Regions from separate parts of the Homo sapiens genome. Here region 1 is linked to region 2. Evidence: fine-mapped expression QTL. A gene starts in region 2. The other region holds a variant in brackets. All regions are shown on one strand. Distances are from middle to middle.

What was found. PIP is the estimated chance that this variant, and not a neighbour inherited with it, causes the effect.
Region 1: its variant is fine-mapped to the expression of MAML1 in whole blood (TOPMed, PIP above 0.99). The same link has a PIP of 0.9 or more in breast, cerebellar hemisphere, cerebellum, gastroesophageal junction, lung and pancreas.

What each region holds. Positions count from the first base shown.
Region 1 is chr5:179,771,447-179,776,815 of GRCh38, reverse strand. It overlaps MAML1 (mastermind like transcriptional coactivator 1), which reads right to left. Exons shown (of 5, transcript NM_014757.5): 5 at 1-2,921. The coding sequence ends at 1,939. Among named protein-coding and RNA genes, the nearest start is that of LTC4S, 20 kb to the left of the region's middle. RefSeq lists a silencer at 3,461-3,661. The variant G/C (reference allele first, on the strand shown) is at 2,908.
Region 2 is chr5:179,730,841-179,736,190 of GRCh38, reverse strand. MAML1 (mastermind like transcriptional coactivator 1) reads right to left here and starts at 3,369. Exons shown (of 5, transcript NM_014757.5): 1 at 2,764-3,369. The coding sequence starts at 3,078. It overlaps CANX (calnexin), which reads right to left. Exons shown (of 15, transcript NM_001746.4): 15 at 4,550-5,350. RefSeq lists silencers at 2,777-2,836, 3,077-3,276 and enhancers at 2,465-2,965, 3,727-3,826.

The sequences.
Region 1 (5,369 bases), 41 kb before region 2:
ACATTTTATTGCTATGACACTGCAGCAAGTGAGGAGCCCCCACTGTGTCGCCGGCCCCAGGACTAAGGCGGAGTGCAGGGCCAGCGAGCCCCGGGGACAGGGGTGGGAGACGGGGCAGCAGCCAGATGGGGTCAGGAGAGGAACAAGGATCCACAACCAGCCTTCAGCCGATTTTTGGGAGAAAAGCCGCTGAGGTCACCCTCTTCCCCTTCAGATTGGGGAACTCCCTCAGAGGGTGAAATTTTCACTGGCTTTATGATTCACCCCTTCTTTGAGAGCTAAACTGAGTACATGGGAAAGGTAGGGAAGGTGTTTTAAGGAGAAATGGCCGACATACCACTTGGGGTGGCAAATGGCTATTAGAAAAGAAGATCTGAGGGTCCAAGTACCCCCAGTGAGAAAGGCACTGCTGGTGCAAAATAACTACCAATGTGTGTACAACCTCTCGTCCCCTCACCGCGACTCAGGCTGGTTGCATGAGTATTTTCCTTGGCTCAATTCTCACATAGGACACTCCTGAATGATCCATTGGGAGACTCCAGGGAAACAGAAGTGGGGCTGCAGTTTCTCCACAGAACACTCTGCATCTGAGCCACTTTTCAGCATTCTCTTTTCTCTCCACCATTCTGTGTAAAAGGGTCTCACCCTGTGCTTACCACTTTGCTTTCGTTACGGGGAAGTGCTCTCTCCATCTTCGTTTTCCAAAAACAGCTCACATGTCATATTCTATTTCGTGGACCCTCAGCTTAGTCAAGTCCACTTGAATCTTTAGAAAGGATGTCTTAGTGTTATAAAGCAATCTCTTTAAGAAGTGCAAGTCATCTGACATGGGAGTGGCAGAAGTTGTCAAACCAAGTGGAATTGCTTCCTCCGGGCCGGCCTACGGCCTCCTTCCCCAAAACCTTTATGCTAAGGTTCCCTTAGGAATTCTAAGACTCTTCCTTTCCCTCCAATGGAGTAAATAATTGTTTTCCATTTGGGCTGCAGAGAGGAAGGAGAGGCAGACAGAAAGGCCAACGGTAAAGGAAAGACATCTGTGCACAACTGCACAGTGACCACGCTCCCACCATGGGCAACATACATGTTCAGAGAAAACTGCAGAAGGTGGGGAGACATAATACTCCAGGATACAGGACCCCCACATCTCTACCTTCCATATGTAGCCTGGGGTCCTGCTGCCAGGACATGGGAGGAAGGGATTCCTGGGGGCCTTGGGAGGGAGGAGGAGGAGCTGCTAGGAAGACCCTAGCTGTGTCACCAGACCTGCTATCCCATGCCTCCTGTCCCTTTTTGGCATACGCAGTCAACAGCCTGCACTTAGGGAAATAATTTTCCAGTGGCCTCCTTCTCCCCTGAAAGCTGACAAAGAGCAGAAACAAAAAAGGCTCTTAATCAAAAGGAAACCCTAGGTTTCCAATGCCACTTAATTGATTTAAACCATCACCTACCCTAATCTGTTTAAAAACCTTTTGTAAAAAAATTTAAAAATCTTTTCTATGCTACAAATTGCAAATAATTCTGCTATCTAAAGTTTCAACAGAAACTTGTCCCCAGCACTGGGGTAAGTGGAGCAGTCTTGGATAAAATCACCATGATGGCACAGATTTTTATAAGCCCGACAGTGTGGGGTTTCACTGGTGTTACTGTTGGTTTTTTGGTCGTTTGGATAGAAAACCACCTTTAGAACCCTATCCTGCTGTCCCAACACCAGGTACTGATGCCAGCAGATGGGCTGGGGCCAGCCCGATGGACCTCAACTGCTGGCCTGAGGGGCGCAGCCACAGACCCTGCCCAGGGCCAGGCCTCACCTGGAGCTTGGGCTCTACCTGCCCAGCTCCCCAGGCCATGGGCTTTTGGTCCAAAGTAGTTGCTCTTTCTTTGAATCTGAGAATAAAAATATAGGATGAATGAACACTAAAAACACTACAAATCCTTCCATTACTGAGACCCTAACAGGTCGTCCAAATCACTCATCCACTCCTCTGAAGTCCTGTTCTTCAGCAGGGAGTCGATCAGATCGGTGTGTCCAGCCACACTAGAGAGCCCACTGCCACCTGGCTGCCCGCTATAGGCAAAAGGCAGCTCCTGGCCCGCGGTCCGCACAGGGTAGGCCTGGGTGCAGTGCAGCCCCGCCCGACCGCCCATCTGTGAGGCAGGGCTCTGGCTGAAGGCCCCCAGCTCAGGCCCTGCTGGGCTCAGGCCAGGCAAGCCCTGCTGAGGGGCTGTTGGGGGTGGTGCTGGGGCAGGGGCGCTGGTCCTCTGCTGTGCACTCACTGGGGGTAGCAAGGACCCCACGGCAGCTGCTGAGCTCATGGGAGCCATGGGCCTGTTGGGCACTGCCTGGGAGAATTGCGGGCTAGACATTTTCAGGTGGGCCTGCTGCTGCATGTGGAAACTGGAGGCTGCAGTGAAGGGACTCACGTTGCTGTTCCCTGGGGTCTGGCCACTGAGGTTCGGCATTCCCTGATGCTGCCAGGAGGAATTCTGGCCTCCCATGGCTGGTGACACCCTTGGGACCGGTGGCTTTGTTAAACCAGGGTTCAGGGTCCCCTTATTGTGCTGCTGGGAGAGGCCAGAGCTTCCCAGAGAGTTCTGCCCATAGGCAGCTGAGACGGAGGTGTTCTGGCCCACGTTGGTCTGCCGTGGAATGTGGGCATGTCCATTGGTGGCCTGTGGCGGGGGCTGGGCAACTATCTGGGTTATGCCAGAAGCCATGCCATAGAGGCTGCTCTGAGGCATGTTTTGGGAGCCAGGGAACTGAGCCACACCCCGGTCCTGTTGGCCTGAGTTTGTGGGGAGAGAGGAAACTGAAGCATGTCCAGGGCCCATTGGCATCAGATTCCCAGCCTGAGGGAACACTCGAGGACAGCTGGAGTTGGATGGACCCAAGGTGTTCATGCCGGGCAC[G/C]GCAGCAGAGGACCCTACAAGACAGAGAAGAGTCTGGCAGTCAGGAGTCGACCACCACTGGGTCCCTCTGAGACTCGAGCCGCAGCACCAGAAGTCTCACGTTCACGGCACACTGGGAAGAGGGCCCCGGGGGCCATGGGGCAGAAAGCCTTCCACAGGTGGAATGGAGGCCTGGTCTCTGAAACAATGATGGGGTTCAGAAAGGCACAGAGGAAGGGCAAAGCCCCAGGGGAGAGAAAACCAGTGACCTACTTCATCTAACTTTCAAGCACCCACCAAATTTCTGCTCTGTGGGGACCCTGTGGTGGGCACCGGGGACTCTGAGGTGGACCCAACGCAAGATCCGCCTCTGGGAGGCAAAGTTAGCACATGGCACGATGGGGCGCAATGGGGCGCGATGGGGCGCGCCTGGCCAGCAGGCTGCAGGGTGCAGGCTGGAAGCCCTGGCATCTGGGAAGCCTTGGGCAAGGCTTGAGAGAGACAGTGATGAATCCACTAGGTTTAAAAGCACAGAAGTTTAGCAATTTAACAGTTTGGGGAAAAAGAGCATTCCAGGCAAGTGTGTGCAAAGGCAGAGTCAGAAAAAGGCATCTGTGTGGGGAACTTTCAGAGACTGGCCGTGGCCGGGATATGCAGACAGTGGCCAGCTGGTTAGAGATAAAATGGAAGAGCTAGTTCCGGCCAGATAGGGAAGAGCTGTGGATGGCGTGTGAAGAACGGGGTTGTGGCCGGGCGCGGTGGTTCACGCCTGTAATCCCAGCACTTTGGGAGACCGAGGCGGGCGAATCACGAGGTCAGGAGATCAAGACCATCCTGGCCAACATAGTGAAACCCTGTCTCTACTAAAAATACAAAAATTAGCCAGGCGTGGCGGCGCGCGCCCCCAGCTACTCGGGAGGCTGAGGCAGGAGAATTGCTTGAATCCGGGAGGCGGAGGCTGCAGTGAGCCGAGATCATGCCACTGCACTCCAGCCTAGGCGAAAGAGCAAGACTCTGTCTCAAACAAACAAACAAAGAACAGGGTTGTAAAGCCCAAGAGTGGCTGGACTGAGAGTGTGGCTGAGACCATGCTGGGGAGAGGCTGTTCAGTCACGGAGATGAGGGAGGGCAGACCATGTGGGAATGGGGGGTGGAGGTGCAGAACTGTGTGACAACATCTCACCAGACAATATACCATCTTATGGCACACCATTTATACTATGAAATGACAAGGTGGCCAAAGGAGGGAGGAGTCGCAGGAAATTACCAGATCTTCACTGAGTACCCACTCTGTGGCAGGTGCTGTGCTGGAGAGACAGCAGAGGGTGGAAGAGAAAGCACCCCTATGCTCAGGGAACTGCTGTCTAGGCCTCCTGGCTTAAGCAATGGACATATGACAACACCATTAACTGAATTAGGTTTTGTGGGTAGGAGAGTCATTGTTCAGGGATTGGCCGTAACTCAGTGCTTTGTTCTTCTTCCTCTCTACTAGCAACCATATAATAAAAATTGGGGCCGGGCACGGTAGCTCACACCTGTAATCCTAGCACTTTGGGAGGCCAAGGCGGGCAGATCACGAGGTCAGGTATGTGAGATCAGCCTGGCTAACATGGTGAAAGCCCATCTCTACTAAAAATACAAAAATGAGCCGGGCGTGGTGGCAGGCGCCTGTAATCCCAGCTGCTTGGGAGGCTGAGGCAGGAGAATCGCTTGAACCTAGGAGGTGGAGGTTGTAGTGAGCCAAGATCGTGCCACTGCACTGCAGCCTGGGCGACAGACCAAGACTCTGTTTCAAAACAACAACAATGAAATTGGGTTGAGGAAAAGAGGAGAGCTGAAACCGGCTATTTCATTCCCATCAATAATCCACAAAATGTCAGATGGGTCTGAAGGCAGAAAACATGGGTCAGACCCATGCTTCTGAAATGCCTGCAGATTTCAACCCCACGTTGACCCCAGGTAGCACATACATAAAACCGTACCTGGTCTCCTCCAGGACACACAGCTGTGGTCAGTCTCTCTGGGACCCTTTATAGCAAGGTCCCAAATAAGGAAAAACAGAGGTTTCTAAGACATTCTGAGAGGAGCTAGGAAGGCGGGCAGACCAGAGCTTCCTGTATCCATTCCCTGAAATCTTTGTGCATTTCTGGAGGGATGGCCTATGAAGTTCCCTGGCACATCTCAGAGGCGACAGCTAGACTCAAGTGTGCTTCCTGCCCTTTTCTGGCCAACTGTCCACTAGTGATGCTGCCATCTGTGATATTCAAGTGAGCAGACAGGAGGAGAGAAAGAAGCCAAAGGCCACGCAAGTGCATTAAGTCCTTATCTGGAAGATAGGAGTCATTTTTTGAAGACACATAAAAGCAGAAGCAAAGAACTTTCTTGAGAATTACAGAAGCTATTTCCTGCTGATAAGATGTCCTCCAACTAGAAATGATTTTGCTTCAGAAAACTGTACAGCCAGGGACCCAGCAAAGGTAGTT
Region 2 (5,350 bases):
TTTTGAAGTTAGTGTATAGGAGGAGAGATTACTGAGTAAAGCACTACCAAGTTTCTATCAATAATTCAACAAACAGGCACTTAAGATGCACCTCAGATGTGTACTACCCAAGTGTGAGCCCTCCCTGCCTCCAAGAGCTGACAGTCTAGTTGAAAAGATGCGACCTAAAGTAACAAGTGACCATGTGCTAAAAATAAATAGCATAGGCCGGGCGCGGTGGCTCACGCCTGTAATCCCAGCACTTTGGGAGGCCGAGGTGGGTGGATCACGAGGTCAGGGGTTCGAGACCAGCCTGCCCAACAAGGAGAAACCCTGTCTCTACTAAAAATACCAAAATAAGCCAAGCGTGGTAGTGTGCGCCTGTAATCCCAGCTACTCAGGAAGCTGAGGCAGGAGAATCGCTTGAACCGGGGAGGCAGAGGTTGCAGTGAGCAGAAATCATGTCACTACACTCCAGCCTGGGTGACAGGGCGAGACGCTGTCTCAAAAAAAAATAAATAGGCTAGGTGCAGTGGCTCACACCTGTAATCCCAGCACTTTGGGAGGCCGAGGTGGGTGGATTATCTGAGGTCAGGAGTTCGAGACCAGCCTGGTCAACATGGTGAAACCCCATCTCTACTAAAAATACAAAAATTATTAGCTGGGCATGGTGGCCAGCACCTGTAATCCCAGCTAGTAGGGAGGCTGAGGCAGGAGAATCACTTGAACCTGGGAGGCGGAGATTGCTGTGACCCTAGATCGCGCCATTGCACTCCAGCCTGGGCAACAGGGCAAGACTCCATCTCAAAATAAATAAATAAATAAAACAAATAGCATAGATAATATGTTTCCTAAATGTTTTGACAAAGGAGATTCTTACTGCTGTGGGTTAGGCTGGTCAGGAACTAGCTTTAAGGCAGAAGAAAGAGATAAGCTGGGACTGGCAGGGTGGCAGGATTCTGAAAGGGATGGAGGAGGGTCCCACAGGCGGCCTTTAAATTTATGAAATACTGTATTTTATTTATTTATTTATTATTATCATACTTTAAGTTTTAGGGTACATGTGTACAATGTGCAGGTTAGTTACATACGTATACATGTGCCATGCTGGTGCGCTGCACCCACTAACTCGTCATCTAGCATTAGGTATATCTCCCAATGCTATCCCTTCCCCCGAAATACTGTATTTTCATGTCCACACTCATTTCTTTTTATTCTTAAAAGAATCCTGGGGGCGGCACGGTGCGGTGGCTCATGCCTATAATCTCAGCACTTTCAGAGATCAAGTTGGAAGAAAGGATCACTTGAGCCCAGGAGTTCAAGACCAGCCTAGGCAATATAGTGAGACCCCATCTCTAACAGAAAAAAAACTTTTTTTATTTAGCCAGGCATGGTGATGTGCAGCTGTGGTTGATCCCAGTTACTCAGGAGGCTGAGGCGGGAGGACTGAGGAGGCTGAGGCGGGAGGATTGAGGAGTCTTGAGCCAGGAAGGTTGAGGCTGCAGTGAGACATGACTGTGCCTCTGCACTCCAGCCTGGGCGACAGAGTGAGGGGAGGGCAGGGAAAGAACACGGGGCGATAATAAGCCCAACATGCCCCTAGTTTACAGATGAGAAAAGTGAAGATGAGAAGGCTTGACCAGTTGATACAATAAGCAATGAAATCTGAGTGGTTTTTTTTCTTCTAACCCAGCAATCGAGGCTAGTGTGGAAGAGAATGAGAAAAATAATTCAACCAGAGCAGAGGACCTGTGAGGGACATTAAAAGATAGGTTAGGTCAGACTGGTCCCAAATGCCAAACTAAAGACTTTGAACTTCATCCTTTCAAGCAAGAGAAGGATTTCCAGCATTTCGAGAATAAGGGAGAAAGAAACTAAATGCCTACAGACTGGTTAGTTAGCTAGGGACAGGCACTGCAATAGCCCAGGTGAGAGATAATAAAGGTATGAATTTAAAAATACACATAACAAATTAGATTTTAACATTGGTTTTAAACTAAAATCCCCAAGAAAACCACTGAAAAACCTTGTCTCTTTTGTAAATCTGTTTCAGGAAGAAAAACCTCTAACCAACAAATTTCAGGAACATTTACTGAGAGCCCAAAGGGAGTAATAATTGACCAACAATCTAACATCATCAGAGATTTTAAACAGGCCTGATAAATTAAAACTAGAATTGTCAACAATATTGCAGGAATCTCAAGTTCACAAAGTTCAGGCTACCTAAACAAGGAATACTTATATGCAACTCATTGAACATTTTACTAAGTTTTCCAAAAATTTCTTGATTTTCCATTCAGAGGAGTTTCAGTTGGTCAACCAAAGGCCGACTTATTTCCACATGAAAGCCCTGATCCTGCTCACAGCACAGGATCTTGTAAAGGGCAAGGACCCAATAAACATTTGCAGAATAAATGAGGCCAGGCCTACGGTGCAGGAACTCCCTCCATCACAGGCGACTCGAATGCTAGTCTATTTCGAATAAAGATCTCAACATCCCGGAATCAAGTCTGGAAGAAAAACCCTCCGGTTAGCGTTCGCCAGCCTTCCCAGGTCGGGCCTCCTGCAAGGCCCTCAAGGCGCTGTTTTCCCAAAGTAACGCCACCGTGCCACTTCCCAAAGATGACAACCTCTCAGCTCCCTGCCATGTTACCCTCTCTCCAGCCAGATCCAGGAGTCGCGGACGCCTGGGGAAGTCTCCCAGCGGCCCGATCCGCGTCAGAGGAAGCGTTTTCGGGAGAGGGGGCTGCCGCCACGACAAGCGCCTTCCCGCGCCCTACTCACCGTGGCCGGGCGGCCGTGCTCGGGGCCGTCAGCGGCGTCCAGGCGCGGGGCCGGGGCGGCGGGCGCCGGGGCCGTGGCGGCGGGCGGCTGCCTGTGCTTCCCGGCGCGCTTGGCCTTGGCCTGGATGCAGCGCTGGTGCAGGGCGAAGGTGTGTTGGCGCTCCAGCTCCAGGCGCTCGGGCGACACGGCCTCGTAGCGGGCCTCGCAGGTGCTGTGGTGGCGCCGGCACAGCTCGATGCGCCGGCGAAGGCGCTCCATGACCGCGCTGTGCCGCGGCAGCGCGAACTCCGCCATGGGGCAGGTGGGCAGCACCATGGGCCGCGGGCTGCACGGGCCGGGCCCGGGGCCGGGCCTCTCGGGGCCGGCTGGCACTGCGGGCTTCGCTCCCCGCGGCTACCCCTCTCCGCCTCACGGCCGCGCCATGCCCCCGAGGGCAGCGGAGCGGGCTCGCGCGCGGCGGCGGGTTTTCCTCCTGCCCCGCTCGGCCCGACCCCCAGCCGGCGCTTGCTGCCTACCTCAAGCCTCGGCCTCTCCCCACCGCCCCGGCCCCATTGTTTTCCGCGCTACCGCCGCGGCCGCCATCTTAAAATTGTTTTCGGGCCTCTCGGAAGAAGGCGGGGCCTCGGTAAGAGACCTTGTGCATCACGACTGATGAGCAGGGGCCCTGGCCAATCAGAGAAGGAAGAACCGGCCGCCCGAGGGCGTGGGGACGAGCACGCAAGAGGCGCGCTCGGGCGCCAGAGCGGTATTTAAAAGGAATTCTCAAGCGAAGGGCGGAGGGAAGCCCCTGGGCGGGCCTTAATCCTGGGGGCGGAGCTAAGCGTGACTGACAGGAGCCCGTCCAAGAGGCGGCTATTGGTTTCCTGCACAGCACCCGCTGAAGGCAGGCCCTTCCGGCTACCCCGAGAAAAGGGGAATCTGGCAGGCGAGTGCGGCGCAGCTGGCCAGTCCCTGTCGCCCGCCTGGCAGTACAGAGACCTTTTTTTTAAATTATTTTTTAAATTTCGACTTTGATAAACTCTAAGTAGCCACGCTATTTTAATGTCAGCCGTTTTACTTTGACCTTATTCCTTGTATCCAGCCCCATAATTGGTCAGAATCGTCTAGTGAGCTGGTAGTTTCCTCTTGCAACATTCCGAATCACTGGTAGTTTCCACCTATTTGTAAAAGCCCGAGCAAGTTTCAAAAGTGCAGTATTACTCACTACTTAAAAAAAAAGTCCAGAAGATGTGAGCAAAAGCATGCAAGAGTGCAGCTCCATTAGAGGGAACTGGAAATGCAAAGGACGACGTTTCACCACAACCACCGCCTTCCAGGCTCAAGCGATTCTCCTGCCTCAGCCTCTCCAGTAGCTGGGATTACAGGCATGCGCCACCACGCGCGGCTAATTTTGTATTTTTAGTAGAGACGGGGTGTCTCCATGTCGGTCAGGCTGGTCTCCCACTCCTGACCTCAGGTGATCCGCCCACCTCGGCCTGCCAAAGTACCGCGATTACAGGCGTGAGCCGCCGCGCCGGACCAAAAACAGTCCTTTAGGTAAAACTGAGTTACTCAACAAAACCAAACCAAGACAAATTATGCCCCATTATTAAAACTAATAGGCAAAGGGGAGTAGAGGGACTGGAGCAATCAAACAGTGTTAGTACTAAAACTAGATAGTGTGATGCCAAAGGATATCAGGAACTCTAGATATGGGCACTCTAATTGCTAAAAGGTTAAGCAGGAGGTGGCAGGAGGCTGCACATTGAGATACACCATCAGTAGTTCAAACATTCGTTACTCTAGCTTTTTACTAGGGCTCATGAGGTTTTATTTTAAAATCAAGAGAAAACAACAATCAAATATGTCTTCATACAAACGCAGCAGAAAAATACAAATCCTAATGTTTTAAATGGAGAAAGTGGGCCACCAAGGCAAAAGTGCCATAATGCAGTCCTGCTTTTTTTTTTTTAGCATTCAAACAAATTTTACACCAGAACTAAACTATTTCTTAATAGAAAAAATAGTAACTAGGAGCACTACATTCTGTGTACATACTTTTCTTTAGTATGTAATCTAAAAATTTAATAGCACATAAAAAACTGGGCTAACTTTCAAAAATACCCCTAAAGTATTTAAGTATATGTAAAATAATGGAGTCTGATTCTGAACAAATAATTTTCTAATAAAAATTTCAAAGTTCAATGGTTCCCCTAAGTCTTAAAGAATATTATCTACAAATTATCAGTAGCATTCCCTCCTTTTCTGAGCTGCTGTCCACACTATTATACAACAGAAACTACTGCACCGCAATCACATGGGCAGGAAGAGGCAAGGGCTAGACAGAAAAGACTGCATCAAACTCACGTGGTGAGATAAAAGTCATTATTTCACTGTCCATAATAGTTTCTGCCTAGTAGTGAACTCTCACATAGTGGCCAATTATACGAAGATCAACCCACTAATTGAACATAGTCACACACACACACTGAAGGTTACTATGAAGAAATTCAGTCAAAAGCAGACACTTAACACAGGGCTTTAATGTAACACCATTTAGTAACATGACAAATTGAAAAGTGAGGAGTACTTTGTGGATAAGAAAATG